Regions from separate parts of the Homo sapiens genome. Here regions 1, 3 and 4 are each linked to region 2. Evidence: fine-mapped QTL for protein levels in blood plasma. A gene starts in region 2. Each other region holds a variant in brackets. All regions are shown on one strand. Distances are between the middles of the regions. Region 1 overlaps PXDNL (peroxidasin like). Region 2 holds the start of PXDNL (peroxidasin like). Region 3 overlaps PXDNL (peroxidasin like). Region 4 overlaps PXDNL (peroxidasin like).

Evidence for each region. A credible set is the group of variants that fine-mapping cannot tell apart. PIP is the posterior inclusion probability: the model's chance that the variant is causal. Protein levels are from antibody-based Olink assays in UK Biobank. Linkage for the fine-mapping came from a reference panel and not from the study's own genotypes, which makes the PIPs less certain.
Region 1: its variant is the best candidate, but not a certain one, in a credible set for the plasma level of the PXDNL protein (UK Biobank, PIP 0.74). The variant lies in the coding sequence of PXDNL. If it changes the protein, the assay may bind it differently, which can mimic a change of level.
Region 3: its variant is the best candidate, but not a certain one, in a credible set for the plasma level of the PXDNL protein (UK Biobank, PIP 0.89).
Region 4: its variant is the best candidate, but not a certain one, in a credible set for the plasma level of the PXDNL protein (UK Biobank, PIP 0.78). The variant lies in the coding sequence of PXDNL. If it changes the protein, the assay may bind it differently, which can mimic a change of level.

What each region holds. Positions count from the first base shown.
Region 1 is chr8:51,410,015-51,418,014 of GRCh38, reverse strand. PXDNL (peroxidasin like) reads left to right here. Exons shown (of 23, transcript NM_144651.5): 15 at 4,757-4,865; 16 at 6,608-6,765. Among named protein-coding and RNA genes, the nearest start is that of PXDNL, 400 kb to the left of the region's middle. The variant C/T (reference allele first, on the strand shown) is at 4,779.
Region 2 is chr8:51,802,873-51,810,872 of GRCh38, reverse strand. It overlaps PXDNL (peroxidasin like), which reads left to right and starts at 1,428. Exons shown (of 23, transcript NM_144651.5): 1 at 1,428-1,692. The coding sequence starts at 1,529. RefSeq lists enhancers at 1,011-1,532, 1,533-2,055.
Region 3 is chr8:51,385,399-51,393,398 of GRCh38, reverse strand. The region is part of intron 17 of PXDNL (peroxidasin like); the gene reads left to right. Among named protein-coding and RNA genes, the nearest start is that of PXDNL, 420 kb to the left of the region's middle. The variant G/A (reference allele first, on the strand shown) is at 4,628.
Region 4 is chr8:51,449,175-51,457,174 of GRCh38, reverse strand. PXDNL (peroxidasin like) reads left to right here. Exons shown (of 23, transcript NM_144651.5): 10 at 3,390-3,656. Among named protein-coding and RNA genes, the nearest start is that of PXDNL, 360 kb to the left of the region's middle. The variant T/C (reference allele first, on the strand shown) is at 3,435.

The sequences.
Region 1 (8,000 bases), 390 kb after region 2:
GTGTTGTAGTGTTTGAATAGTTTAAACATTATAAAGAAAACAAATAAAACGTCTTAATCTAAGCACCATAACCTTAAACAAAGTAGATGGTGCCTTTCCTTTTCCAGTCTCTGAAAAAACAGTGGAGCTCTCCAGGGCAATGAATTGGTTTCCATGTTTAATGATGCAAAGTGATGAGTAAGACAGATTCTCTGCTGTTTAAACAAAATGATTTCATAAAGGCAGTCATTACCATCAGTGTGTATGGTAATGTGGACCTGTCTCTGGTGTCCTGGGACAGCCCTCACATGTGTCAGTTTTAGCATCACTCTTTATAGGGAAAGACTGAGTATGATAAGACCTATTTGGTTACGATAGTTACATTATCTGCTAATTTTCTTCCCCAGGGGGAAAAAGGGGGAGGATAAAAAATACTCAAAACCCAATTGGTAATTGTGAAAAAATCTCAGCCTTTATTGAGGTCTAGGCATTTTTTAGCAAGGGTGACAGAGGAGCACAGCTGTTTTGTTTCTGCATCCCATCTCTAGGTCCAGTCCCCAAGTCACCCAGAGCCAGGCCTTTCATGCAGAGCAGTGAGTGGCCACGTGGCCTAAGCTCCCCCTTTTCTGAAAGGACTCAATATTACCATTGGATTTTACCATCAATAGTAGTGATAGCCTCATAGATGCAGGGATAGGATTGCAAATAGATGTGCATCAATAACTTTAAACATGTTTATTTTGTAAATATACTGAAGCCTTTTTCTCATTTTTATTACCCTGAGACTTAACAAAGAAAAATGATCTAGTTGTCCCTCTACTCCTGTAAAATTTTGCATAAAAAGATGGAGAATATGCTCAGAATTTTCTGATTGTTCTATTCCTTAAGCCATTAACTGAGATGATTTTTGAGACAAATAACTACAACAGTATTGATTAATTCTAATGTGTCCCCAACACATTGGATTTGCTTACATAACACAGTGCTGTTCTAAAGAAATTTATAAAAATATTTTTGCAGTTTGTACCAAATCAAACAAAACAACACTGAAATCAAATGAATAATAAAAGAGTTAGTTTTAGTTTACTCTTAAACCACATAAACTTAAAAAATCATAACTGACATAAAAACGAGAAAGCTTTATTATCAAGAATGTTTTTGTTTGACTATATCACGTATTTAATGTGCTTTTAAGAATCTGAACAACTTTATGTGTTTTCTATTTGTGTAGTTTAGAGCTTAAATATTTCAAAAAATATTTGCATACAATTCCATTTTTAAAATTTTCTTCTCCTTTTCACTTTTACACACTGGTTGACTTCTGATTCATATAAATAAATAGCAAATCATATTGACAGTATAACACAGTATCAATTGATAATCATGTGAGGATACAGATTGCCTATAGGTTTTAAAACACATTAATCGTGAAAGCCACCTTATATGTGCATTGCAACATGCAGTTTTAAAAGAATTTTGCGTATCTTTGCTATCTGATAAACACATCAGCCCTGAGCTCTGTGCTGAGCAAGGCTTTCTCTCTCCATTTAATGGATGAGCTAACAGATGAAGACAAGTGCTGCAAAATCCCTATGCTTGTAAATCTTATACAACTATAACAGCAAAACAATTTTATAAACAGAATAAAAGCAAAAACATCAATCCAATTCACATTCACATATTAAATGATGGTTTCCTGAAATTTATACTTTATATCAACTTCTGTCCACCATTGTGAATAGCCTTTTAAGTTTTGGCATCTCAATAGCACTATGTCCTGTACGGTAACTCAGTCCTAGCACACAATCTTCTTACTTCCAAATCCACGTAGACCTTTGATAACATATTTTGTCCCAGATGCAGTAGCCCAATGACAATACTTGTCACAAACAGAAGCATGTAATTAATGCTGCTTTCTATATTTGAGGTCCAAAAGTGAAGGAGTAAAAGGGACAAAGAAAAAGCTAATATGTTGATTAAATAATCAAGTCATACATGCCAGTGCAGATTGATTTGATTGATTTTAGTTTCTTTATTTCTAAGATAAAAGTAAATTAAGTAGGCTCATTCCTACTGACTTTTTTTGAACACATAAGCAGACTAATGTAGCTATGTTTATAGTATTGTTTTCTTATAATCACAGTAATTATATTGATTGATTCCTCAATTGGTTAACTAATTAATTCATTACCTTTTATGTCCATACTCTGCTTTCATCATCATTGCTATATATGTAACAACTATACTACATCTAAGTATTATATATTTTAATTCGATCATTTTATGGTTATCTCTTTCTAGTTTTCGAATTTTTACCTTAAGCATCTTTTAAGTGTCCATCCATGTATGCCCAGACAATTCTAACTGTTGCATGACATTCCACGTTGAACATCCACCACATTTTCCTTGCACACTGGTATGGTTTAGATTTGTGTCCCTGTCCATATCTCATGTCCAGTTGTAATCCCCAGTGTTGGAGGAGGGGCCTGGTGGGAGGTGATTGGGGTGAGTTTCCCTCTTGCTGTTCTTGTGATAATGAGTGAATTCTCATGAGATCTGGTTGTTTAAAATTGTGTAGCCTCTCTCCCTTTGCTCTCTCTCCTGTTCCAGCCATGTAACATGTGCTTCCTTCCTCTTCATCTACCACTACTGTAAGCTTCCTAAGGCCTCCCCAGTGATCCTTCCTGTACAGCCCGAGGAACTGTAAGCCAATTAAACCTCTTTTCTTTGTAAATTACACAGTCTCAGGTAGTTCTTTATAGCAATGCGAGAACAGACTAATACACCCATACTTCCACTGTTGTACAACCAATTTTCTACAATTCCTACTGCACAAAGTTGCAATAAACATTCTCATACATACCCTTGTGGATTTCAATTATAATTTTTCTGCATATATGCATGGGATTGAAATTACTGGATGAGAGGATGTGTGCATATGCAATATTACAAAGTAACAACTGCCATCTCCCCCCCGCCAAAGAAGGCTCTAAATACAATCCCCAAAATAGGTGTCAATTCCACAGTCCTATCAGTCTGCCTGAGGATTTATAGGAACTCTCACTCCTGTCAAAATTTGGCTTTAATCAGCTTTTTATTTTTTGCTAGAATAAGCATAAAATGGTAGTTCATTGACACTTTTTCATTTCTGAGGTTACAAGTGATTTTGAGCATGTTATATCCTTATTAACTTTTGAGCTTTCCTCTTTTATAACTTGCCTATATATTTGTTTCTTAGTGTATTATAACGTTTCTTTGTATGAAACAGAATATCATTTCTGCCTCAGAGTTTGAGATTGCAAATATTGTCAGCTATTTGTGTCATTTATTAGTTATTTTGTTCATGTTCTTGAAATTGTTAATTTCATCCAATTGAATTAATCAATTTTTGTCTTTTTTTCTTTCAATTATCTTTAGCTAAATCAATCCCATGTATTTTTTGGACTAGGAAAGGCAACATTGGCCATTTAGAGCCTCAATCTTGTGGTCATCATAAAGGCTGCAATGACTTGACAGTGGAGCCACCCTACTTACTCAGAATTGCTGCACATAATCTAGTTTGCCAAGAAGAATTTTCAGTATGGTCCTGAATTTTATTCTTTCCTTACAATATTTCCATACCATTGGTATTTTTTTTCTTAAAATTATTTTATGTTGGTGGTCTTTTTAAGACAATAAAATCTAGGCTATATAGATGGTCATAATATACAGGAATTTTCCTGTAATATCTAGATGGAGAATGCTATATGGGCCCATCTATTGTCAAATATATATGCTTAAATATGTATAGAAACACATATATAGATATATACATATAATATGTATATATCTATCATACTATATTGTGGTAACACCTTGACTTAAGCTTATATTAGTTACTTCATTGGGAGTTCTTTTGGATAATACATACAATACCTTCCTATTACTATTCAAGTTTTTAATCACTTTTACTTCCCCTAAATGACATTATTTTCAAACTCAACATTTAAAGCTATATTGACTTTTGCTTTCAATATTTAGCAGTGCCAAAAAGTTATTGTTTTCATTGCCTGTGTCACATAAAATGTTACTGTACTTTTAGTATCTCAAAAATGAACTAGATACTGTGCTGATTATTTCTCTGATATGAACTGTAAATATTCATTCGTAATTATTTTTATTTAGTATTTGTTCCTTTACTGTTAAACTTCTTAAACCATTATTTGAAGAAGATTCAATAGCCTGGAAATGATCAGCTGTAAGTAAATAGCTTCCTTTGTCTACAGGATTCAACTTTGCAGTATTTTCACATGTTAGAGAGCTATAAAAAAAGCATAAATTAATTTTCCCATAAATCTTATTGAGAGTTCAATTCTTGCCTTAAGAAGCCTCTATGGGATGGGAGAATATTTACTTTGCTTTAATGTTTAACATTAAAGCAAGGTGGCTGAAGAGATAGGTATTTCATACCTTCTCCAAGATGACAAATTGCTGACATACTTGGATCCTGTGTGAATCAGCATTGTTCAAAAGGAAATATTTTACATAGCTTTACTAGATTTTGGAATACTTTAATTCCCTAAATAACATTATTATTGTTAGATGAAGCCTTGCTTCAAGATAATTACCTACCTCTCTGCAATGGGCATTATCATGTAGATATTGTATAACATTTTCATTGTCTTAGAGGTTTTAAATGTAATGGCATTACATTTAAAAATGTAATGCCATTCATATAATATCATGCCTAACTTCAAGGTCTGTTTGATATTTTTAATCATGGAATTGATTTTCAAAGCTATACAGGGTAGACAAGCTGG[C/T]GATGACTTTGTTGAATCTTCCATTCTTGATGCTGTACAGAGAGTTGACAGTGCAATTAACTCCACACGAAGACATTTGTTTTCACAGTAAGAATTTATTTTACACAGATTGAAACCTTGTTTTCATTTCTGTTCTACTTAGTTTTTATCATCTCCATAAGTCACATTATAGTGCATATGCAATAGAGTGCTTTCTTTAGTCCTTGTGTATGCATCCCCATCTGGGCTAGCCATCATTATCAGTTCACCCTAAAAAAGGGGAAACTTCTTCCCCATAGAATCTAAATGGCATTAATTTATGCCAAAGGTCCATGCTATACAGGCTGACAATAGACACTAGGCAATGGGCTGGGTTACCTCAGCATCCACCAAACAGTGTCAGATGCAGTGCTCCTGCAATGTGTGAATTGAGAATGATTATCAAGTTGAACACACCTTGGTATAAACTGGGAGCCTACGACAAACATTATGTTTAGGATATTTGGCATTTTACATTATTTTAATTTGAATTGGAATGTTCATGGACTAGTGAAACCTTCCAATCCCATTAACTTCTCTGTGTTTGTAACATCAGGATGCATTAACAAAAAAATGATTGTTGATTTCATCATAATCGGATAAAGTATATATTCAGTATTTGCAGTTAGTGGTCAAAAAGGGACATCGTAAAATCCCAAATTGAGTCTCTTCTGGCTTCCTGCACATCCATAAATAGAATGGCTTTGTGATCATGCATGTGTGTTCTAGAACCACGCAGCCGATTTAGATTTATATTCTCTTCCTGATTCCTCACTTCATTACTTTCTGTCTGGGTGACCTTGAGCAAGTGACTTAACATCTTTGTACCTCAGGCTCCTTGCTCTCTAAAGTTGGGATAACAGTAGGATCTACTTCATGGATGTGCTTGCTAGGAAGAAAAAATAAGATAATATGTAAAAAGTGCTTCAACAGTGCCTGGAGAATAGAAAGTGCTTAACCAAAGTGAACTATTAGCATCATTATTATTATTCTGTGACCTCAAGTAGTTAAGATTCAAGACATAGAGGATGAGATGTGCCTCAGTTGATCAAAGTCTCTAAAACAGTTTGCTTCACATTCTCAGTGCTTTTAAATTTCTTTTTAACATATTTGGTTCAGTTCTACAAATGTGCATAAACTGCTATTATGTGCTGGTCAGTGGGCTTGGTATTTGGGATACAAGATAAATAATAGGTCAACATCTCATCAGCAACCTAGTTCTTTCTTTAGCAGAGGAGACAATATGTCAGCAATTCAAGTACATTTTACTGAGTATATAAGACACATATTTAAGGATACAGGAGTACTAGAGAAGATGGAGTGATAGCTTGTCAGAGCTCTCAGTGAAACTCTACAGGGAGAGTGAGGCCTGAGGAGGATTCTAAAGGCAAGGAGGAATTTCTAGGAGATTACACTCAGGGAAAGAGAAGACACAAAATGCCAAGTCCTGCAGACCGAGAGTATTGCATAGTACTTCAGAAGGTTTACTGAGCCTCCTATAATCCATTCATCAACCGACCCCCCCAGTTTAGAACCCCACCATAGATGTTGTTTCCTAAAACTATTGTTTAAATCATCCATTCATTAAAAATATATATTTTTGAGTTCAGCACTGGGACTAACATTTGGAATAAGTTGTTAGCAAAATAGGAAAAGAACCCACAGCTCCTCTGTAGAGCCTCTATTGTAGTGGTGGAGCTTTCATTCTTCTCGAATGTTTGGGAAATGCCTTTTTAAATGCACAGTATTTGCAAGCTTCATGGACTCTGCTGTTTTGCCTTGTAAAGAATCATGTGTTTTGTCATTTGCAGAAAACCTCACACCTCCAGTGACCTGCTGGCTCAATTTCATTACCCGCGTGACCCACTGATTGTGGAAATGGCAAGAGCAGGGGAGATTTTTGAGCACACGCTGCAGCTGATACGGGAACGTGTGAAGCAGGGGCTCACTGTGGACTTGGAAGGCAAAGGTCAGCCACAAAGCCATTTTATTCTCAGCCTACTGCCCACAGAAAAACTGACCACCACCTTAGCAAAGGACACTGAACTTTTAATCTCCAGAATATCATGGGATTTAGAAATTAATTTACTCACTACTTTTACCAAATAAATGCAGATGTTTCTCATAGGAACTGTAATTCCAAAGTAAGGATGATAAATATATATTCAAACTTGTCTCAACTTTTAAGTTATATGTATAGAGAACAAATCTAGGGAACCTACATTAAGTGAACTTGTGTTTCAAATGTAAAAGATATTATTGTGTCTTATAGAGAAATGCTTTATTACCAGGGGGATATTCTTCCACTTATCCTTTCAATCACCTGAATCATTCAGTGAATTTACTTGAAATTTCTTCTACCACTTATAATATTTATAATACCTCCCCAGTTCTTTTGATTTTTGTTTTTTTGTTGTTGTTGTTTTGTTTTTTGGTATATCCAAGTTCTTGTGTATTTCTTTTTAAAACCAGACATCTAGTTAGTAGATGTCAAATGAGATGATATAGAAAGCTTTCAGATTTTCTAAGTTGTTCTCTTTCAAATGAAATAAGTGAATGTGATTCTTTGCTATATACTATTTGTGCTGTGAGTACAGCATCAATTTCTATTGGCTTACCCTTTCTTTATTCTCCTTTAGGAAATCAACCGAGACGTGGTGCAGAAGGCCTATCTGTGAGCTTGCCTCAGCCCTTAGAGCTCTGTACAATTTCTCTAACTAACTGGCATTTGACTGTCCCTGGTCACCCAGTATGATGGGTTTTCAAAGCTTCCTGAGGCAAAATATCCAGATACCCAAGATTAAGATATCTCAGGATCCAGCCAGGGACTGGCTAACATGGATAAAGTGCAAATGGTCCCATTATTGCTTGCCAGTTTCTGAAGATTAAATAAGGATGGTAACTTTTAGTATGATTAGTGAACAATCTTTGTAGCACTGGGAGAATGCTGGAAGTTTAAGCCCTGTTAAAAGGTAGAGCTCCAAGCATGTCCCTTATTATTTTGCCCGTTTGCCAGGGAATGACAGCTTATAGTAGTTCAGAAAGTTGTTGCTTAATCCCTCCTTGTCAAGTATCATGTGGGTTAATATTCACATGATCCATATTGATATTTCTTTGACCTTGTTCTCTAGAAGCACAAAACTTGAGAGAAAAAATTCTGAAATGAAACAAACAAAAATCAACAAAACAATTCTGGGATGTGGA
Region 2 (8,000 bases):
TTTTCTCCCTCCTGAACTTACATATTTCTGAGTCCCTACCCTTTTTAAGTCTACTTTATGAATGCAAGATATTTTTATATTTTTGTATTTTATATATTTTATATTATTTATATTTTTTGTATTTTATATTTTGAACTGCAAACAAGGCACAAACCTGCAGGTCTTGTCTATGTCCTCCAAATCACAGGCACTGCCAAGAGCATAGTGATTGTTGGGATTTAAAGGAATAAATTTCGTTTTTTGGCTTTATTGGTATACTTGGACAATAAAAGTCATGTGAACAATGTCAAATGTAAAGTTTAAAATAAATCATTCTTGTTCATGGAGATTAGTTTTGTTTTTTAGATCTTTTTACATTTTAATCTCCCCAAAATCACATATTTAGATATGAACATTTTGCCAAAAGAGGGCAGTATTCGCCTACAGTAGAATGTAAAGGGACTGAAACATTTCTGCAGAGACAAGGATGAACTTATTTTCCTCTTAAGATTGGTCTACTAGTCTGATCATCTGGGATTGACCATGCAAGTTTTAATTTGTTTTCTATTACTTTTATGGATTTAAAACATTTTTGTTTGAAAATGTTAGTCTTTAAAGATAAAGCCAAAAATCTGTTTAAAAATACCTGCTTACAGAATGACCAAAAAGTAGATGTTTTCATATTTATTAAGTTTTCAGACACGTCCTCAACGAGGTGCTGCTCACTTCAGGGAAAGATGGCCAGTTCAAACTGCTGATGAAAAGTCTGCAACCAGCAAGACCACTGCTGCCAGTGTGTCCTGAGGGAGCTTGCATCTGTTTGACTTTACATATACATACTTAGGTTTGTCCATCAGTTGTATCCTCTTGAAGGAGGTATGTGAGTTCATGGTTTTAAGCATATAAATTTAAACGTTAAAAGAAGAAATCAGAAGTAGCCCGTTTGAGTCTTACATGAGTGAAATGTGTTGGGTTTCAGCAGCAGAATATATAGAAGGAAATGAAACAATTTTTATTAAAGAGCATAGTTTGGAATAAAGAAAGAATATGTGCACCTAGATGAACGAATTAGAACTCTGCCTGCCCTTTAGGGTTTGGTAATGTTACCAGATAAAAAAGAAGAAAAGCTGTTCTGCATTGTTTCAATACATTCTTAATCAACTTGGGCTTCAAGAGGACAGCTGGAGGCTAAGAGGTCGGGTTTTTCATCAAATGCGCAGTGGAAGTAATTTTGGAAAAGTTTGTTTGCATTATGCTGCCTAAAACACGGTGTTTTAGAAAGAGGCTTTTGCATTGAAAAGCTTCTCGTCCTCGCCTCTGGGAGTCTAGTGCTTCCTAGAGCTGCTTGTGCCCTCAGCCCTGTAATGTGATATCCCTCCTCCTGGATTGGTCAGAGGGGTGTCCTTTCCCTGGGAGCTGCTTTCCACCACGGCTCCCAAACTTGGCTCAGTCCAGCAGCCACCATCACCACCACTGCGGTTGCTGCTGCAGCTGCAGCTGCTGCTCTCCCTCCGGCTGCTTCTTCGCGTGGCCAGCAGCGAATGGAGCGATGGAGCCCAGACTGTTCTGCTGGACCACTCTCTTTCTCCTGGCCGGGTGGTGCCTGCCAGGGTTGCCCTGCCCCAGCCGGTGCCTTTGCTTTAAGAGCACCGTCCGCTGCATGCACTTGATGCTGGACCACATTCCTCAGGTACCACAGCAGACCACAGTTCTGTAAGTTCACATAAATTCCCCAGAAACCCTCTTCCCCAATGCTTCATTGCTTCTCTGCTAGGACCTGTGTCCTTTTAATTTACGATTCCTAATGCTCTCCCTGCTTGTATACTTAGAAGAGGCTTTTCACTTTTCAAACAATTTCATGGTTCTGCTCTGTTAGACTAGAAAATGTAAGCAATGATGAGTTGACATAAATATATTTGTTTTGGATTCAGTTCTCTTCCAGCATCTTCCAGAACTTAGCATTGAGAATTCTCGTCTTCATTCTTCCTTCAATAATTTTCCTGCATACTTTCTCAATTTATTCCTATTCATCCTCTACTCCCAAGTCTTTGGGCCTCTTAATTGGTCAGCACGTGTCTGCCCCATTTGGAAGGAACTAATTTAACTTTAGAGTGTGGTTTCAATTGATTATGTGCTGACAAATTGTTAGGCTTTGTACTGTGTGTACCTCCTGGGAGGGTGAAGTCCTGAGCCCTCAGCACTTGAAGCACTGTCTGTCTCCAGAACAGACCCTCAAATGGTCCAGTAGAGTTCTTGAATGCTTAAAAGCCTTGTGGAGCAGCCGCTTAGACTAATCGGCATCTAGGAGGCATTACGGGATAGTAGGGCAAACCAGAATTTGGAAGTCAAACAGGTCTGAGTTCAAATCCTATCTTCTCATCTTTAATATTCAGATAATAAACCCAAACATTTAGATTTATTTAGATTAAATTAAGTCATAATTAGATAATTAGAAGGGCAAATCACCACAAAAGAAGAAAAGGATCTGTTTCTAGGGTCTATTTTTAAAGAAAGAAAAAGACGACAAATTCAAAAATTTAAGAAAAAATAAAAGAAGAAAAGGAAAAATGCTGAAAGATGCAGACTAAAGAGGTTTCCTGCTCTATAATAAATATTTTGTGGGTTGTGTCATGTTCATGGAAGACAAAACTGCTTGCAGTGTTTCAAGTCCATTCTTGGGCAGAGGGAAATAGCTTAAAATTCCTGGAATTTTGAGATATAAATGTTTAAGAGGATCATTGCCACACATTTGTCAGTCATAATCGTGAAATGAGGACTTGGTAATAAAAAGTCCAATTTGATGGTATTTACATAGAAAATGACATATTATCCATAGATTTTCATTTCTATAAAGCATTTCATTAATTTTATATGCATGCAGATATCAAAATACGTCTTACTGTAATAACTGAAAGGATTCTTGAACTTGGGAGCACTGCTTATTGCTATGTGGACAGCACAGTTCTGCAAGTGCCTTCAGACTCAGAACCAGCCATTTGTCCTTTTGTAATGACAGTTTTTTGGTAGATAGCAGCAAAGCCTTGGAGAAGGGGCTGCTTGTCTAATGAAGTATCTTGGAGCTACATGAGGTACAACTCGACCTAAATTTTGTTTCCTAGGTGTTTCAAAGAAGAGATTAGCTTGCATTAGACACACACCTCTAAATGTAATGAGCAGAACTGAAGTGATGTTGTCAGTGTTGTCATGCAGAGCCTTCCACTATGTTTAAAAATAAAGCTTAATGGTGGATTCTCAGGCCCTTGGCTAGATTCCTGTCTGGGAGTCTGGTGCCACCACTTACAAAATGTGTTGCCTTGGACAAATTCTTAACTTCTTGGTGTCACAGTTTCCTAATCTGTAAAAATGGAGATGCTAACAGTGTTTGATATGGTTTGGATCTGTGTCCCCACCCAAATCTCATGTTCAATTGTAACTCCCAATGTTGGAGGTGGGGTGCAGTGGGAGGTGATTGGATAGTGGGGGCGGATTCTCATGGTTTAACACCACCTCCCTTGGTGTTGTCATGGCGAGAGTGAGGTATCACAAGATCAGGTTGTTTAAAAGTATATAGCTCTTCTTGCGTCTCTCTTCCTCTTGCTCTGGCCATGTGAAGTTCTCACTCCCCCTTTGCCTTCTGCGATGATTGTAAGTTTCCTGAGGCCTCCCCAGAAGCCAAGCAAAAGTTGCTGTACTTCTTGTACAGCCTGCAGAACCATGAACCAATTAAACCTCTTTTCTTTGTAAATTACCCAGTTTCAGGTATTTCTTTATCACAGTGTGTGAAAACAGACTGATGCACTCTTCACCCTATTGGTTATCTTGAAGATTTAATGAATTAATGCATTTTAAGTACCTAGAAAATTGCTTAGCTCTAGTAAACACTATGGAAGTTTTCACTATTAGTATCATGTTTGCAATTCAGGACAGGAATTACAAACCTAAATATCTCTGGGAACCTGCCAGTAAACAATTTGAGGGAAGTGGGGTAGATGAAAGGCAGACTACTGTGTGATGAATAGCAACTAGCCTGAAGCTTGGAGTGTGTGGGGATGGTAATGAAGGCAGAGGCAGCTCTTGCTAATGGGGCAGCCAGTTACTTAGCTAATTGATGGCCTTTGGGGATTTGGGCCATAGTTTCAAGAAAATATGGAAGCCAAAAGTGACATTCCCTAGCTTTTCAATATTAGCAGCTAATTACATTTTTAGAAATGGAAAGGCAAAAATATACAAGCCCAACCATGCATATTTGTAGGTTGCTTTTTGCCTAGGACCTTCAGTTTGTGACTTCTAGTAGAGAAATGGTATAAAAGCTGAGAAGTATATGTAAAGCCTGTAAAAATTGCTCCTCTACTCCTCTGGGGCTAAAAATCCTTGATGTAGGATTGCATTTTATGTCAGCAATATCATGAAAGATGACAATAACAATTATGGGAAAAAGCCAATTAGTTTTTGAAAACTAAGGCAAATGGAAGCTGAATGAATTTCTCCCCAGCAGCAGAACCAATAGTTTTTGTTAAACCGCCCTTATGTATGTTTATTGTCATTATAACATGGAAATGATGTAAATAATATATTTAGCTCTGCAAATGGCCAACATGCTTAGTAAATGCTTATTAGTAGTAGTGTTAAAATTTCCTTAATTTTTTCCATTTTTACATGTTTTAAAATTTTAGCCTGAATGCAGAAAATATTTTCCTAAATCATAGATAAGAAAACTGTATTATTTTTAAGATTGGTTACAGTTGATCAGGGTTTTAAGTTTAGAAAAATGCAAAACTGTCCCTCCAAATTTTAATTTCATTCTGACTATAAAGATATTGTGTTTCTAAACTAATATCATTTACCAAAAAGCCTGCTGCCATTGAGAAAATCTCACTCTTTGTGCCGTGGATTTTAGTAAAACAAATCTTTCAGAATTAGAATTTGCAAACAAAAAAATGTCCAGTAATGAACACAGCATCTTTAGGGAGCCTGTTCAGTAATCAGAAGCAGTGTATGGTGAGTGTGATTTGACTCCATCCTATTCCAGGGTCATTAGGTTGTACTTTCCTAATTTCCTTAGTTACTGGTTAAGAAATGGACTCAGTGACTGCAAATTGAACATGCTCTAAAAACCACCTTGATTAGAAAAAGTTTTAAGCTTAGGGCTGTTTTAATGATCGAGGATTTTCCTAAAAGTCATAAATACAAAAGTATTTACAATGTGAAATTCTAAACATTTAATTTAAAGACATTTTCTTTATGTGGAAAGCTTTCTTTGCTGTCCAAATAATAGAAAACTTGAGGAACAAGATGGGGGTGGGGAAATGGAAAATGTCTTATGCTCAGTCATGAAAAAGTGTGTCCAGCTGATAAAAAATTTCACCTTGTTCAAGAAGAAAATAGAATTCCTTCAGCTCTTCCAATTTCCATTCATTTTATATATATATAATATATATATCATTTTGTATATATACATAAAATGATGTGTTATGGAATAATAGGGAGTAGCTGCAATCTGAGGCAGCAAACATAATTTTATAATTTAAATTATATATAAAGTTTTATATATAAAATTGTATAATTTAAAATATATATATGTATATATAAAATACAACTTAATAGGGCTTACTTTTACCTTTGTTACAAAATTTTTTGTAGCTTGTTTGTAACCGACATAACTTACTGGCTTTGAATGACCACTTGGCAGTAATGAACAGGCCTGAACTTTTTGGACCTTCCCCCACCTGGCATTGTTGAGGGGAAGCACAGTGGGACCCAGATGAAGTGTGTCAACATTCAAACTTCCCCCAGTGGTTGACTTGTTGGGGAGAGAAATGAAACTGAAAGTGGGCTGTCACTGACCTCCTGACTCAGGCCAGTGTGGTTCTGTGGAGAGGGGCTGGAAGAGGCTGTTCTGGAAGGAAGGGCAGGTGAGTGTGGATGGAGCCCAAGCAGGAGAATGGACATAGGGACAATGTGGAGGTGACAGCTTGAGGAGGTAGAGGAGTAAAGGCCAGCACCACTGGCTGGGGTATAATGTACCCTGGAGACTTGGGAGTCATCCTTCAAGAAACAAATGGACAGACAAATTGTTTTAGAAGGTCAGTGGAGCCAGGATATCCTACAACAGCCTGTACTTAGATGGTATATGCTGATTAAAGTATTAGAACAGTGTTCCCTACACTAAGTGCTGCCTTTCAACCCTACTGTAGATTCTATAAATGAAGTGAAGGGATGTGTTATGGAATAGTAGCTTTGTGGGGAGTAGCCGCAACCTGAGGCAGCAAAGCTGTGGTCCCTGTGCTAGTTGGAGAGCTACTGCACATGGGAAAAGTTGAATGACAGTACAAGTCTGGTGTTAGAAGGACCAATTCTGCTTCTGTATTTATGGAGTAAAAAGGGATGGTGAATGTCCTCGTTTGTCAACTAGATGGGCAACAAAGACAGTGAAATGAGTGAAAAAGAGGAGAAAAAAAATTGAATCATGGAGAGTGTGAAAGCAAAATAAATCTTGGGTCCCCAAAAATCACTAAGCTAAAGGGAAAGGTCAAGCTAGGAACTGCTTAGGGCCAACCTTCCTCCCGTTCTACTCAAAGTCACCCCTCTGCTCACTGAGATATATCTGTATCCGATTGCCTCCTTTGGAGAGGCTAATCAGAAACTCAAAAGAATGTAACCATTTGTTTCTTATCTATGTATGACCTAGAAGCCCCCTCCCCACTTCAAGTTGTCCTCCTTTGCTTCAAGTTGTCCCACCTTCCAGACCAAATCAATATTCATCTTACATAAACTGATTGATGTCTCATGTCTCCCTAAAATGTATAAAACCGAATTGTGCTCTATCATGTCATCAGGACCTCCTGAGGCTGTGTCATGGGAGTGTGTCCTCAACCTTGGCAAAATAAACTTTCTAAATTAACTGAGACCTGTCTTGGATATTTGAGGTTCATACATTGTTGAATTTTGTTGTGTTTTACATGGGCATTCTGGTAGAAGGGGTAGGGGCTCAGAAATATATAAGCTCAGGAGGGAGATAGAGGCAAAACATGCAGTTCTGAAAGTCATTGGGCTAACGGTGTACATTAATTAGGTTGAACAGAAGAAATGAGATTTCCCAGAGGGAAGAATGGGAAAAGGCCACATAGGCTAGAATTCTGGAATGCTCCACGGTCAAGTAAACACAAAGAAGAACAAAAGCCAGGACGGTCACCAGTGGTTGTGTAGGCTGTGTACTGCACAACTCCAAAGTGTGCTGGGAAATGTGCCCCCCTTGCAGCTGTGCAACACTGTGGTCCTGGAGGAAAAGGAGGGAAGAGACAGAGGAACACATCTACCGAAGACTCAGGAGGAGCCCAGAAGACAGTATCGTTTGTTCTTCAAGAGAGAGGATGGGGGCCACATCTGTCAGAGCTCGAGGTGGCAGAGTGCAAATTCCACCTCTAAGAAGTTGGAAGAGAGGGACAGGGTCAAGTGAATTTTGTTGTTTATGTTGGTCTGTTTGTTTTTATGAAGGACAGGGAGAGTTTTTTTGTGTGGTAGGCAAAGGGAATGAGAGTAGTGTGGGAAGAGGAAGGATGTGAGAGCTGAGAAATGGAAAGGTTTTCTACTGGACCTCGCAGTTTCCAAAGAGAGATACTCGCTGAGATATTGATATAAGCAAGTAACTGAGAGCTTCCTGTCTAGATCAACAGTCAGGACACAGACCTCCTTATCTGGGAGGCAGGGAACCCAGCAGGACAGATGGGAGGCCTCCAACCCACAGTGAGCCAAGGCCTCTGGAAGCCTCGTTGCTGCAGCACATGTTCTAACCCAGGTGCAGAATAGGTCTGACATTGATGCTTCTGGCCCCAAAGGGAGAGAGAAACATTAGGACAATTTTGAGGATACCTGGATGTTCAGCTACTACATTATTTTGTAAATGTATTCCTTTGCTTAGACATCTTTCACAAATAATGTTTATAAAGTTTTGTTTTATTCAGTGAAATGTTAACTTTACTCAAGTTGATGTAGGTTTAAGTTATGTAAATGTTTATCAAAAA
Region 3 (8,000 bases), 420 kb after region 2:
GAGCCTTTTGTACTTGTTCTTAGTCTCATACTTCTCATCCCGAATATGACGATCATTGTATGTGTCTCATCAGTTTACTGAGAAGATGAAATAATTTAAAGTATGTCAAGAACTTAGCAGACTGCCTGGATGCTAAGTCTATGCACACATCTGAGTGCCATGTGTAAGTGAATCTGCATTGGTCTCCAATTATGGAAATTTAGGAAATTAAAATTCAGGAAAATTAAAGAAAAAACATTCTCTAAGTAAAGGTGGAAACCTGTCTTTCTATAGGTAGCAATTCTTTCCTTTTCATTTCAGAGCGGCATGACATTCACATAAAATGTATACTTCAGAATGAAAACACAGGAGACTGGCTTTAAATTAAGTAAAATTCATGGTCAGTGACATGTAACTCAGTATTTTCTTTTGCTCAGGAAATATATTTTCAAATGGCTGTAAGTGAGACTACTCCCAATAGTGTACTCTCTAATCTTCTCTTTACATTAAAATTGAGGAATTTTGATATTAATTTTTATGCCAATCAATTTCTCCTAACCTCACAATAGAAATGGCACCACTGTTGCTGTTGAAAATCTGTGCTTTCAAGACAGGTATGCCCTCTCTCACCACTCCTATTCAACATAGTGTTGGAAGTTCTGGCCAGGGCAATTAGGCAGGAGAAGGAAATAAAGGGTATTCAATTAGGAAAAGAGGAAGTCAAATTGTTCCTGTTTGCAGATGACATGATTGTATATCTAGAAAACCCCATTGTCTCAGCCCAAAATATCCTTAAGCTGATAAGCAACTTCAGTGAAGTCTCAGGATACAAAATCAATGTACAAAAATCACAAACATTCTTGTACACCAATAACAGACAAACAGAGAGCCAAATCATGAGTGAACTCCCATTCACAATTGCTTCAAAGAGAATAAAATACCTAGAAATCCAACTTACAAGGGACGTGAAGGACCTCTTCAAGGAGAACTATAAACCACTGCTCAATGAAATAAAAGAGGATACAAAGAAATGGAAGAACATTCCATGCTCATGGATAGGAAGAATCAATATCGTGAAAATGGCCATACTGCTCAAGGTAATTTATAGATTCAACGCCATCCCCATCAAGCTACCAATGACTTTCTTCACAGAAGTGGAAAAAACTATTTTAAAGTTCATATGGAACCAAAAAAGAGCCCACATCACCAAGTCAATCCTAAGCCAAAAGAACAAAGCTGGAGGCATCACACTACCTGACTTCAAACTATACTACAAGGCCACAGTAACCAAAACAGCATGGTACTGGTACCAAAACAGAGATATAGATCAATGGAACAGAACAGAGCCCTTAGAAATAACGTCACATATCTACAACTATCTGATCTTTGACAAGCCTGAGAAAAACAAGCAATGGGGAAAGGATTCCCTATTTCATAAATGGTGCTGGGAAAACTGGCTAGTCATATGTAGAAAGCTGAAAGTGGATCCCTTCCTTACACCTTATACAAAAATTAATTCAAGATGGATTAAAGACTTAAACATTAGACCTAAAACCATAAAAATCCTAGAAGAAAACCTAGGCATTACCATTCAGGACATAGGCATGGGCAAGGACTTCATGTCTAAAACACCAAAAGCAATGGCAACAAAAGCCAAAATTGACAAATGGGATCTAATTAAACTAAAGAGCTTCTGCACAGCAAAAGAAACTACCATCAGAGTGAACAGGCAACATACAAAATGGGAGAAAATTTTCGCAACCTGCTCATCTGACAGAGGGCCAATATCCAGAATCTACAATGAACTCAAATTTACAAGAAAAAAACAAACAACCCCATCAAAAAGTGGGTGAAGGACACGAACAGACACTTCTCAAAAGAAGACATTTATGTAGCCAAAAAACACATGAAAAAATGCTCACCATCACTTGCCATCAGAGAAATGCAAATCAAAACCACAATGAGATACCATCTCACACCAGTTAGAATGACGATCATTAAAAAGTCAGGAAACAACAGGTGCTGGAGAGGATGTGGAGAAATAGGAACACTTTTACACTGTTGGTGGGACTGTAAACTAGTTCAACCATTGTGGAAGTCAGTGTGGCAATTCCTCAGGGATCTAGAACTAGAAATACCATTTGACCCAGCCATCCCATTACTGGGTATATACCCAAAGGACTATAAATCATGCTGCTATAAAGACACACGCACACATATGTTTATTGCGGCACTATTCACAATATCAAAGACTTGGAACCAACCCAAATGTCCAACATAGACTGGATTAAGAAAATGTGGCACATATACACCATGGAATACTATGCAGCCATAACAAATGATGAGTTCATGTCCTTTGTAAGGACATGGATGAAATTGGAAATCATCATTCTCAGTAAACTATCGCAAGGACAAAAAACCAAACACCGCATGTTCTCACTCATAGGTGGGAATTGAACAGTGAGAACACATGGACACAGGAAGGGGAACATCACACTCTGGGGACTGTTGTGGGGTCGGAGGAGGGGGGAGGGATAGCATTAGGACATATACCTAATGCTAAATGACGAGTTAATGGGTGCAGCACACCAGCATGGCACATGTATACATATGTAACTAACCTGCACATTGTGCACATGTACCCTAAAACTTAAAGTATAATAATAATAAAATAAAAAAAAAAGAAAATCTGTGCTTTATGCCATTTAGTGAGGTCGGCTTGTCACCTCATTAAACAAATAGCGATCCTCAGAGAACCTGAATCCACATCACTTCTTGGCTAGAAATGAGGAAAGCAGTCAATGTGCTTTATGTTTTTGTGTGAAGAGAGCCATAACTGTTATCATGCAAATTTATAGAATACCCAGAAAATATTTTAAAGGCTTTATAAATTATAATAAAGATATTTATGAATTAATATTTGTACTTATTTCATCCAGAATTAATATGGAGAAGGCGGAGAATTTCAGAAAATGTGCTGAAAATACTACCTAGGTGCTTTTTTGGGTTCCTAGTAATTAACTTTGTGATCTTAGGCAAATTGCATGATCTATCTGAGTTTCCACTTCCCTGGGCATATTATTCATTGGTTGCCACAGGAAACTTACTGAATGCTTTTAAATGGCTCTAAAATATTCTCCTTTGCAAATACTTATGAGCCTAAGGCAGACAAAAACTAGTTTGAATCAGTTTAGAATGTTTTTAAAGAGTGAATTGAGTCAACATTTACTTTCATTTTGCATAATGCCAGATGTTCTTTGCAACATTTGGATAGTTTGGCCTATATCCTCATTTTCTCATTAACAATGATTGGTACTTCATAACATTTTTTAGCTAGAATGGAATTTTTTTTTGGTGGGGGGGGCATGGCTTCCATAGCCAGTGAAGTCATTAGCTTATTTTGTATTTTTAATTACCTGAAATAATAATTGAAAATGAATTAAAATATATAAACATTTGTGCTATATATAATATTAAAACCTTTTCTTTGTTTTTCTTGCCTGTTCCATTATGGGGAAATGTGACATAAAAGCTACTTTAAACAGAGAATGATGTGTTTTATAAGGCATTTGACTAATAGCCTCTTTTCACTGGCAGTTTGAGAATTTCTTGGCAAATAATAAGTTCAGTAAAATGAGCTTCCTTTTTGCTAAAAAATACATAGAACCATTGAACAAAAAGTAAAACTATAAAGAATGGCTTTAAACATAAAGAAGCTCAAACAAATGGGCAATTCTTATATGTCACAAAGGACAAGGAAACTTAAAAGCCAGGGAGAAATCAGGAATGAATGTGCTTTCTTGGCCCATGATTATCAGTCATAGACATTGCTCTGAGGGATCAGAAGTTGAGGTTTTAGTACCCACACAGGGTAAGGGGATACAGAATCCACCTAGTCAGAGGCCTGAAACAGAGTTCTCTGCAGAAAGCCTGAAATCCTGCCTCATCTCTGCAAGGATGAAGGGAACTAGAAAATGCCTTCCCATCAGGAAAGAGGAAGCAGCAATATGGTTTCTCAAGTAAACATCAGGGACCGAGGCTGAAATGAAACAGGAAAATTTTTGAAATTCGAATCCCAGCCTGTGTTACACAGGAAAAGAATCTGAATTTACTCAAACATCATGGTGCTGGAAAGAAAAGAAGATAAATTAACATGAAAAACAGCCCAGGGGCACATGAAACCCCTGAAATCCTCGCACAAGCACATGTCAAATCACTCTCTAGGCATTCTTTTACGACCTGGTGCATACAGACAATCACGGGAATGACAAACCAAACTCCCAAGAAGTTCTCTCCTTCTCACACATGCAAGTTAAAATTCATTTCAGCAAATATGTAGCTGCAAGATAGTCAGCAATGAGAATAAATGAAAAGCAACAAAACAAAACAAAATTAAAATGGAACTTAGGGAGATTAAAACAATAGGAGAGACTCTGTGCATTTAACATTAAATTAAGTAAGAGAATGAATAGAAACCATGTTAAAAGGAAAAGGTAAAAATACAGGTATTTGAAAAACTGAATTTCAAGACATGATATATATAATTTAAATTAAGATCTCAGTAGCTAGTGAAACAGCATACTAGAAATAGCTGAATTAAAAAAATAGTGAACTGGAAGATAAATCTGAAGAATTCACTCAGTGTGTA[G/A]TACAGACAGATGAGAATAATAAATAATAAGGGAGATTTAGAGATAGGGAGAAAAGATTGAAAACATCAAATATTTATAGAAGTTCCAAGAGGTAGAAAACAGGAATGAGAGAGAGAGACCCAGTTTGAAGGGTTAGCAATAGAAGAGTTATAAAATTGAAGAAAGACTTGAGTCCTCACATTTAATGAACAGAACCAGTACCAATGTACTCATCTGCAGAACATCTCACTTAGGAAGTAGAATGTATGTATTTGAAACCTGTATCAGTCTAGATATGCGAGATTATGGTAATCAACAACCAAAAATCTCACAGGATGAGCATAGCAGATATTTTTCACTTACATTAAGTGTCTAACTCAAGTTGGAAAGAATAAATAGAAAAGCGAAAGTTAATAAAGTAAAAAGTTGAAAAAAAGACTGATTAATATATTCCCAAACTGAAAGTTAAGTTACAAAAACATAAAAAAACCAGATTTCTAAGAAGTTACTGTTTGTGTTTTTATAAAGATAGCTTGAAAATAATAGTAATTGAATAATTTTCTATTTGGTCTTCGAATAATAAGAAAGCCAATATCAAAACAGAGCCTACATCAATTTGAAATCATTGAAAAATTACTTTTAATAGTTTCTGAGTTCTAGCTAGACAAAATATTTCAAATTTTAAAGAGCACATTATACAGTATTATGGAATATATAAAAAGATGATAACCTACTTGATTTATTAGCTGAAATTAGCATGCCTCTGGTATAAACCTTAAGAAAGGATCTGTAATGTTAACCCTGAAGTCATTTTTTACAGGGAATAACATTAAAAAATGCTTGTCAGTCAAATCATGAATAGTTTAAGAATAGTGCAACATGATTAAGGAGGAATAATTAATATAAGTCCAGAATATAAAACTGAGTTAGTATCAATATAGGGCATTATATTAGAATATACAGTTATAAAACCCATTCAGTCATCTCAGAGTATACCAAAATGACATTTGGTAAAACTTGAAAACATATTTAAGGTGAAAATAAAAACAACAAAAACATTTTTAGCGGTTTTGAAATAGAAACATCTTTTTACCGTAATATTCATGTATTCATTCAATTAGTAATTACGTTAATTCATAAATATGTATTATATCTACTTTATTCCACCTATTTCCTTAATAAAAGGTATGCAACTGATACTGTAGTGAATGATGAAGCACTCACTGGCTTAGAACCGGCAAAAATCTAGCAATTGTGAGACCAGTCTCCCCTACTGCATCTGTGACAAACACTACTAAACTCTCTCAGGATTTTTTCCTACCGAACATAGAGGCAATCTCTGACTTCTTCTAGACATGGCTCTCATGACAGCCAGCAGTTACTCTACTTGATGGGACCTGGCATACAAAATGAGACCTCCTTATAGCCCCTCACTGGAGCATGCCCACCTGGAAACAAAACATGGCTCTATTACCATAGTTAACATTGCTTTTAAATTTCAGTGCAGCAGGCCCTATTGGGACTTATGAGCTGGAGAAACGAAATGAAGACTGCTCATTTTTATAACTGCATAATTTTCATCAGTTTAGAATGTTGTCTAAAAGGGAGAATTGTAAGAGTGGGTGGTAATTATGAGATCTATGCAGTGGCATGGTTTGTTGTGGACAGTTGAGGAGGTCTTAACTATAGGCTTCCTTTGCTGAATGAAGGATAAGCTTAGTTCATCTCTGACTGTGAAAGAGTAGAACAGTGGGAAATCAGATTTGAGTGGAGAAGCTCTCACATCGTAATGGACTTCATAAGACTGGAAAAAAAGTCAGAGCATCAAGCCAAAATAGTTTTGCAGTTTTGAGGACATAAATGAAATTTATAAATCAAGTGTATACAGTTGATTAAATAGAATAATAGAAATAAAATGCTTGTCACTTGGCTGACATGTAGAAAAGACTCTTTCTTTTTTTTTTTTTCAAGATGAAGTCTTGCTCTGTCATCTGTCACTCAGGCTGGAGTGCAGTGGTGCTATCTTGGCTCACTACAACCTCCACCTCCTGGGTTCAAGCAATTTTTCTGCCTCAGCCTCCCTAGTAGCTGGGACTACAGGTGCGTGCCACCATGCTTGGCTAATTTTTGTATTTTTAGTAGAGACGACGTTTCCATCTATCATCTATTTATCCACTTAACTACCTATATATATATTATCTATTTCTATTATCTCTCTTTATCTCTTATCTATCTATATCATCTCTACCTCTCTTTATCAGTCATCTATCACTTGCTTCTAATTCTCTGTCATCTCTCTGTATCTATCTTTATCTCTTTTTCTATCAGTCATCTATCTATCTTACTACTGCCAGTATCATGACATAGGGGTGTGATTTCTGAAGCTTAGAATAAATCACCTGGCCGGGCACAGTGGCTCACGCCTGTAATCCCAGCACTTTGGGAGGCCGAGGCAGGCGGATCACGAGGTCAGGAGTTCGAGACCAGCCTGGCCGATATGGTGAAACCCCATCTCTACTAAAAATACAAAAATTAGCCGGGCATGGTGGCACGTGCCTGTAGTCCCAGCTACTCCGGAGGCTGAGGCAGAAGAATTGCTTGAACCTGGGAGGCAGAGGTTGTGGTGAGCTGAGATCACGCCACTGCACTCTAGCCTGGGTGACAGAGCAAGAGTCTTATGTCAAAAAAAAAAAAGAATGAATCACCCAACATTTCTGTTAAATGTCTTGAATTCCACCAATGGAGAGCTATTCTTTTATTCGTTATCTGCTTTTATATCAATACCATGGTCTATTAGTCCATTTTCATGCTGCTTGATAAACACATACTGGAGATTGGGTAATTTATAAAGAAAAAGAGGTTTAATGAACTTACAGTTCCACTCGGCTGGGAGGCCTCACAATCATGGTGGAAGGTGAAAGGCATGTCTTACCTGGTGGCAGGCAAGAGAGAATGAGAGCCAAGTGAAAGGAGAAACCCCTTATAAAACCATTAGCTCTTGTGAGACTTACTCAGTACCAGGAGAACAGTATGGGGAAACCACCCTATGATTCAGTTATCTTCCACCAGATCCCCTCCACAACACATGGGAATTATGGGAGCTACAATTCAAGATGAGATTTGGGCAAGGACACAGCCAAACCATATCACATGGTATAAAAACGTAGTTTATGTTTTAAATATCTGTTTATGCCTTCTGACTGGCCTATGCTCTTTAAATCAGGGGCTGTTAATTAGTCGTTTTTTAGTCTAGATTGGTGGCTAGAAAACTCAGGGAATCCTTAGGAATATGTGGATTGAATGGAAAGTTAATCTTTAATTTCTCAATCAGAAATTAAAAGCATGATTTATTACTGTAGATTACTTACCCCAGAATGTATGCTAACTAATCTT
Region 4 (8,000 bases), 350 kb after region 2:
CATTCATTCATCATGAATTAATCCAACACATATTTATTGAATGCCCACTGAGCTAGCTGTTGAAGATTGCATGGTTATCAACCACGTTCCTTATTCAACTTTCCAGGGGCTTTGCTTTGTCATAATTTCAGTGGCTTATATAAACCAGACATAATGACTGCAACAAATTTTCATTAATAGCATGTTGACATGGTGGAAATACATTGTCTCTCACCTTACTGAGCCCATCATCTATTAGATGATAGCCATAATTCAAGAAATAAGTTTTATGATGTGTAAGGAGAGGGAGAGAAGCATAAAGGACAGTTGTGTGCTGGTAAATGTTTGTAAATTGGCTCTGAGGAGCAGGGAGCCCTGATTTGCAGCATTTGTCAGTATCTGTTCTATAAATAATCTCACCATGGCCAATTCCTAGTTACCGAAATGATATCACTGAATGTGGAGTTGGGAAGAGATGCACAGAAGTTCATCATAATATAGCACTTCTAGCGTGCAGACACAGTAGGCATAATAACCCTGAGACCGAAGATAATAATAAAATGTAGTAAAAAATAGGGATGAATTTGTTAGTTTTGATGCTAATAAAATTTATTTGATTGTAAGTTTATTTAGTTAAAATTTTAAGAATGGCTTTGTGTAGCAGTCAGCTTGCAGAATACTGAAAATTTGACAACTGGCTCTCCAGAGCCGGCTCCAGCCCATCCCAGTGGAGGGGAGCACTTGAAGCAGCAGCCTCGGAGGATTGCATTCATTCAGGTCTTCCCAAGAGCATTGACCTTTAAGTTGAAAGCAACAACAAGTGGGAGAGAGCCAGAGAAGTAGGGTTGAAGCATCATTTCAGGAGAAAAGACAGCATAGGGAAGACAGAGCAAGGCACATTCAAGAGATGGAGATCCTGGAGCATACAGAGGAGAGGCTGGGAATGACACGAGATTTGGTGAGGTATAAAGTGGGGTCAGATCACTCAGGGTATTCATGACGCTACACTGAGATGATTAAAATTAGATTTTTCTTTTAGAAAAATGTCTCTGGTGGCAGTTCAGAGAACAAACAGGAGGGCATGGTAAGATAGGCATGTCAGGATGAGGAAGTCAGCAGCGGCAATTGCCACAGGGCAGAAGAGAGTTGGTGGTGGCATGGATAGGGTAGTGGCAAAGTGAATGGAGGAAATTGCAGTGAATCAAGAGGTTTTCCAGGAAAAAAAGACACTTGAGTTAGCGATTGATTGAATATGATAATTCCTCACATAGTTTCCAAGTAATTTATTTAAAAAAATGTTTGTAGAGACAAGGTCTCACTCTGTCACCCAGGCTGGAGTGCAGTGGCATGATCATAGCTCACTGCAGACTGAAACTCCTGTCCTTAAGTGATCCTCCTGCCTAGGCCTCCCAAAGTGCTGGGATTACACCAAGTAATTTCTGATTGAAACACCACTGTCTCCTTCCAAAGCCTCCTTCCCTTCTGCCTCTAGGTCAAGTCTGACCCTGCACACAGGAGCATTTCTACTTTGAGAACACGACTTCCTCTTGATCCTTTCCTAATGTCCTCAATTCTCTTTTTAAATCTCTTTTGCCTGCCTAAAATGTGGTGTTCCTTATAGCGCTGTCCTCCCCTCCCTTTCTCTAGTCCCCCGTGCCCTAATCACATTTTTTTCCTCTTCCATCTGAGCTCTTCCCAAACCTTCAGCTTTCATACTTCATGTAAAATTTATAGTCTTTATTGCTGAGATCCTTCCTGAGATTTCAATGGACATTGCCAGGACTTTGTTTTTATCTTCACATGTAAATCTTTACATCTGTCAAACACATTTGCCCACACAAACCCACAGCATCCTGTGTTTGCTATCTCTATTGGTATCATTACTCTCCTCCAGTAACCTCTGATTCACCCTCTAGTGCTACTCCTTCTTCCACAATTCTCTAAAAATTTAGTTCCATGCATGCATCAGATTATCTCCTTTTCCAGTTCTACTGCCACTGACTTACCTCGGAACATTTATTTCAATTATTATAATAACTTTCCCTATACTTTCCCTTACCTCTTTTTTTTTTTTTTTTTTGAGACGGAGTCTCGCTCTGTCGCCCAGGCCGGACTGCGGACTGCAGTGGCGCAATCTCGGCTCACTGCAAGCTCCGCTTCCCGGGTTCACGCCATTCTCCTGCCTCAGCCTCCCGAGTAGCTGGGACTACAGGCGCCCGCCACCGCGCCCGGCTAATTTTTCCCTTACCTCTTGCCAGAATGTTCTCCTATCACATTTACACCTAACTCTGAGACAATTCTTTCCGAGGCATGTTGTGGTTTTACAGATGATGTGTTCTGTCCTCTGTTCATGCAGCTAGAGTAGGAGCACACAAGGAGGAGTGTGTTTGTTCATCTCTGTATCTTTCCAACATCCAGTATGTTACTAATATACTTAAGACATTCGATATTGTTAGGAATTAAATTAAACATTTATTGTTGAATTGGATTAATTTAATTTATTTCCACTTTCCAGAATATGTTCATCTCAGGAATGGTTGATCCCCCTTCCCCAAACTTAGAATCAATCATTAGGCATTTTTAACACCTTAGCAAATATTTAATTTTTGCTTGAGATTCCCAGAAAAGAGAAACTCCTATGAATTTGTAAGAGTGGAACTCCTTATATGAAAGTCTAAATTTTCTATTTACATGTATACTTGATGAATCAATTTATAATACGTTTAGCTGAAAGTAACTGAAAGCTTGGCTAGATATGGCTTAAATGCATAGCTTCTATGTGTGTGTGTTTGTGTCTGTGCATATTTTAATTGTATGCCACAAGTAGGACAAGGGTAATCTGTCACAGAGCTGCCACATTACCTATAGTGAGCCAATAATATTCTTCTTTCTGCTTTTTGATCTGCTTTGCACATAGGTTTCTTTATTCCTCATAATTTTCACCTCTTAATCACAAAGTGGCTCCTGTAACCCAAAGGCATTCCTGCCCGAATTCCAGGTAGCAAACAGGAGGAAGAAATGACTACTTAAACTTAGCACTTTTATTTATTCCCAGTGACATGTGCCTAAACTGTGTTTAAAAAAATGTGAGTATTCTTAAGAAGGAATGTTTAAACATTTAACCCCTAAAATAAGGAATATGTATTGTGTAGGTGCTTTGCAGTATCTATAACACATCGTGATATCAAGGCAAGCAATCTTTTTAAAAAAGTATGTACTTACAGCAAATCCACATTTCATTATTTTAGATTTAATTTTCTGGGAATTAAATGTGTATATATATATATGTGTAATATTTTAGTTTAAAGGAATTTTGAAAATGACAATAATCTTAAAACCACAATGCAGAATAAATAAATCTTCCTAACTGCTACTTGCTGGATTTCGTTTTGTTCCCCCTTTACCATCAGCCAAACCAAGCTTTGTAATCCAGCCTCAGGACACAGAGGTTTTAA[T/C]TGGCACCAGCACAACTTTGGAATGTATGGCCACAGGCCACCCACACCCTCTTATCACTTGGACCAGGGACAATGGATTGGAGCTGGATGGATCCAGGCACGTGGCAACGTCCAGTGGACTTTACTTACAGAACATCACACAACGGGATCATGGTCGATTTACCTGTCATGCCAACAATAGCCACGGCACTGTTCAAGCTGCAGCAAACATAATTGTACAAGGTATGGGAGCAGAAGGTCATGATTGAAATGTTCCTCCTGCCACACTCAGAAAATTATTTTTCAACTTAAATAATGTCATGTACATCAGTGGAGAAATATTTTTATTTGCCAATTATTTTTTGACACAATAAGATTTTCAAAGCTAATCTGTTTCAAGTTAAAAGTTGTTTTTTTTCTTTCCTACTTCAATCTTTATCCAAAGGTCAGACTCAACCATTAGCAACAAAAGAGATGGAGTCATTAATCTGGAAGGAAACTGTCAAGAGATATTTGTGCTTCAGAATATTTCACAGATACAGGAAAGACAGTACAGATATGAAAGTGAAAAGGCTGTGCCCTGTGTTCATAGTCACTTACCAAACTGTCTACTCAACAGAGCTTGAGGACATGCTGAAGGCTCCTACGAGGCCAGACTGCGTAACAACAGCAATAGTAAAACTATTCTGAATCCAGAAATTAATTTATATGCATGGGCATGCAATCGTGTTATAAAGAAGGCACATTCTTCTTTGTACTTTGGTTCTCAGCCTGGGGTGGCCCCTTTCTGGTGTGTGTGCGTGCATGTGTGTGTGTGTGTGTGTGTTTGTGTGTGTGCGTTTGTGTGTGTGTGCATGTGTGCCTGCATGCCATCTTCCTGTAGGGTTAGAGTTTAGTAAACAGCAGAATATAAGTGCTATTGGAGTCATATCAAAGGTCCAGTTTTTTCTAAACTAGTTTTTCATCAGTTGATGAGAGTACGGTAATTTACATGATCCGTTTTAGGGGCTTCCTGATATGTGCATATTTTGATTGAGTTAAGTTTCATTATTTTAAGATTTGCATAGGATGTTATCTACCAAAACACTGAACCGTGTGAAACACAGAACAGAGAAAAAGGGAAGTGGCCAGCCTAGTGCAGTGCCTGGGTTGGGAGGGCTTCAGAACAGTGAGCCCCAGTGGCCCCAAGAGTGATCTTGGCCCCCACAAAGCACAAGGCTTCCTCCAGCCTAGTCTTCCTGCATTCAGAGAATGTTTTCTAAATTGAACTGTTTAGCATCAACTCCTTTAATAGCAATAGATCAATACTTTCTTATTCCTATTTACATGTCTCAGGAAAAAAAATTGTGTTTTTCCCTAGAACTGCTAATATCCCAAAAATACTTTCCTTGCTCTAATAAGAAGGCACAGAAATGAAATATTTTCTTGAGGTCTTTGGTAACTTCTGGGGGAAATTACTTTTAAAGGACCCAAACGTTATTTTTAAACTTTTAATATGTTGAGATTGAAAAATACCTTCAAAGAAACTGTGTTTGGGTTTTGTTTTGCTTACATCATTTTGTGTTCAATGTCTGTTTTTTAGAAACCTAACGCCTGATCACTTTCACACTTTAGTGGTTGCCTGTATTCCACACTGTGCTAGGCTTTTGTTTCTCAGCTTTTTCCATGTACTTCCTTTCTATGCTTCCATCTGCCCATCTGCGTCAGTCATTGCTTAACAGAACTCTGGTAACCTTTACCATCCTGCCTATTTCTTCTACCACAATATGCTAATGATTTCTTGTTGCCAGTGAGTTTGCACTGAAATGGCCATCTGCTTGTCCTTTGTTATTTGTGACCATCTACTTGTGTCACTTTTGGATCTGTGTGCCCAGATTTTTAATTGATTTTGAAACGGTCCATTAATCATTCTATACATTTATTTAAAAGGCTGATTTTATTTGCCTAATCATAGATGAAACATTTTAAGATGTATCCTTTTGTGTCATTTTAACAGGTTTCTATCCATGTTCTTGATCTTTTAATGTCTATTTAAACTGAGATCACAGTTATCCACAGATAAACTTCCTTTTTTAGACTGACTAAAATAAAATAACACAAATAAAATGACACAAAAAAGCTTCAATGAAAGATATGAATCACAGTGTGGACATATAGGTAAAAAGGCCTATGGTCATCAACAGTGTAAGTCAAAATGCTTTGTGTGTGAGGCAGCACCTTAATGAGTAGCCAGAATTTTAGATTTTAATAAAATAGCAAAACACTTCATCTCGGCATGTGCTATTTTAGCACTGGAGGTGGGACTCAGAAGGCCATCATTTTAAATGGAAAGCCCAAAGATGTCAGCTTCATCATTCCTGTCTAATTATTCCACCTTCTCTGCCTGCTTTGGTGATGTTCATAATTTCTTCATCGACCTAGCAAGCTGCTCATTTTAGTGTTAGAAACAAATGTAAATTGACTATTTTCTTAAATGTTTTCTATGCTTTGCTAAGATGTGGATCTTGGGTTCTGTTAAAAGTGAGAACACGTGAAGTTTAACAATTCTTTTCACACAGACTTGGCTAACCGTGAACTTTAATTATTATTAAAGTTATTAAATGTTAATATTTTTAATAATTAAAATAAAATTAAATTTTAATATGTTAATAATTATTAAAGTTATTATTATTCAAAAGTTGAAATCAAATTTCCCAACACTAGAACCAGGACTACATTATTTCTCTTAACTACTACCATCTTTTGTTATATAGCTCTTTTACTGTGTCATGAATCTATTTTTTAATGTAGAAATATTTTTGTTCTTTTTAAGTTGTTCCTAGTAATTTTGGGAGTTAGTGTAATGTTCTGGAAAGAACATCAGGCTGGGGGTTGAGCGGCCCAGATTCTCTACTATCTTTTCTACTTATTAGTTCTGACCGAGAGAAATTCAATCCTACCTCCCAGAGTCTGAATTTTCTCATCTGTGCAGTGAGGAGCCTGAGATTGCTGATTTGTGGGCTGTTTTCCAGCTTGACTTTTCTAGAACTCTATTACAAATAGCTTGCAGGCATTCCTGAGGGTTTCCATGAATTTGTGTGACTTGGAAATTTATTTTATACCATATTTAGTCCAGCACCTTACTTAGAATGGATGAAGACTTTAAAAAACTCTTTAGTACTTGCACACAGTATGAAACTTGCAACAAATACACTTTGCCAAATATTATTTACTTTATCATGTTTCTTGTATTTCCAGATGCAGGTGAAAAGAAGGGGGTAGTAGGAATTGTGCAAAAATCTAACAAGGCAGAGAAATGATTTGTCAAGTTGTTAAAGGCATTTGAACCAGAGTGACTCCATCTTGAATGAGGGCTGGGTAAAATGAGGATGAGACCTGCTGGGCTGGATTCCTAGCAGGTTTAGTATTTTTAGTCACAGGATGAGATAGGAGGTTGGCACAATATACAGGGCACAAAGACCCTGCTGATAAAACATGATGCAGTAAAGGAGCTGGCAAAAACCTGCCAAAAGCAAGATGGCGATGACAGTGACCCCTGGTTGTTCTCACTGCTCATTTTATGCTAATTATAATGCATTAGCATGTTACAAAACACTCCTACCAGCACCAGGACAGTTTACAAATGCCATGGCAATGTCAGGAAGTTGCCTTTTATGGTCTAAAATGGGGAGGAACTCTAAGTGCTGGGAATTGCCCACCGCTTTCCAGAAAACTCGTAAATAATCCACCCCATGTTTAGCACATAATCGAGAAATAACTGTAAGTATACTCAGCCCAGCAGCCTATACTGCTTCTCTGCCTGTGGAGTAGCCATTCTTGATTCCTTTACTTTCCTAATAAACCTGCTTTCACTTTACTGTATGGATTTGCCTCATATTCTTTTTTGCACAAAGTCCAAGAATCCTTTTTTGGGATCTGGATTGGGACACCTTTCCAGTTACAAAGTCATCTGCGAAAGTTCTTTTGATCACTTAGGCGTTACTGGGGATCATTGCGCTCTTCTTAAATGGCCACATTGATTTATTTTTTTATTCAATCAAAGAGTCACGGACAGAATCCCTTTTCAGGAATGGCATATGCAGCTATTAGCTATTTCTTATTTATACAAAAGCAATAATACAAAATCTGAATATTTGGAACTCTGAATTTTGACATAAATATGACTTTTTCAAAAGTATAATTTCAAGTGTTGCAGGAACATTAATCTTAAGGAGCTTATTTTTCTTTCTGAAATCGAAAGATCAACTCGTTTCAAATTTTATTGTGCATGTGAAAGTTTGGAGAAGACGGTTTTGTTAATAGTTTAAAGTACAATTTGTAGCTTTAAATATGTTTATCACATCTACTAAAATGATAACCAATATGATTCAATCATGGGAAACAGCTGCCGTAAGATTTAGAAATGGTTTCTTCTTGTTGGCTACTGCTGTTTTGCTTTGCAGACCAGATGTGTGTATTTCTGGCTTCCTTGCAAACAGGCACAAACATACAGAAGCACCTCCACACTCTTTATAACCTTGTTTATATATAATTGTAAACAAATTCTGATCACATGACATATTTGAAGACATTTTCTTTTTTCTATTG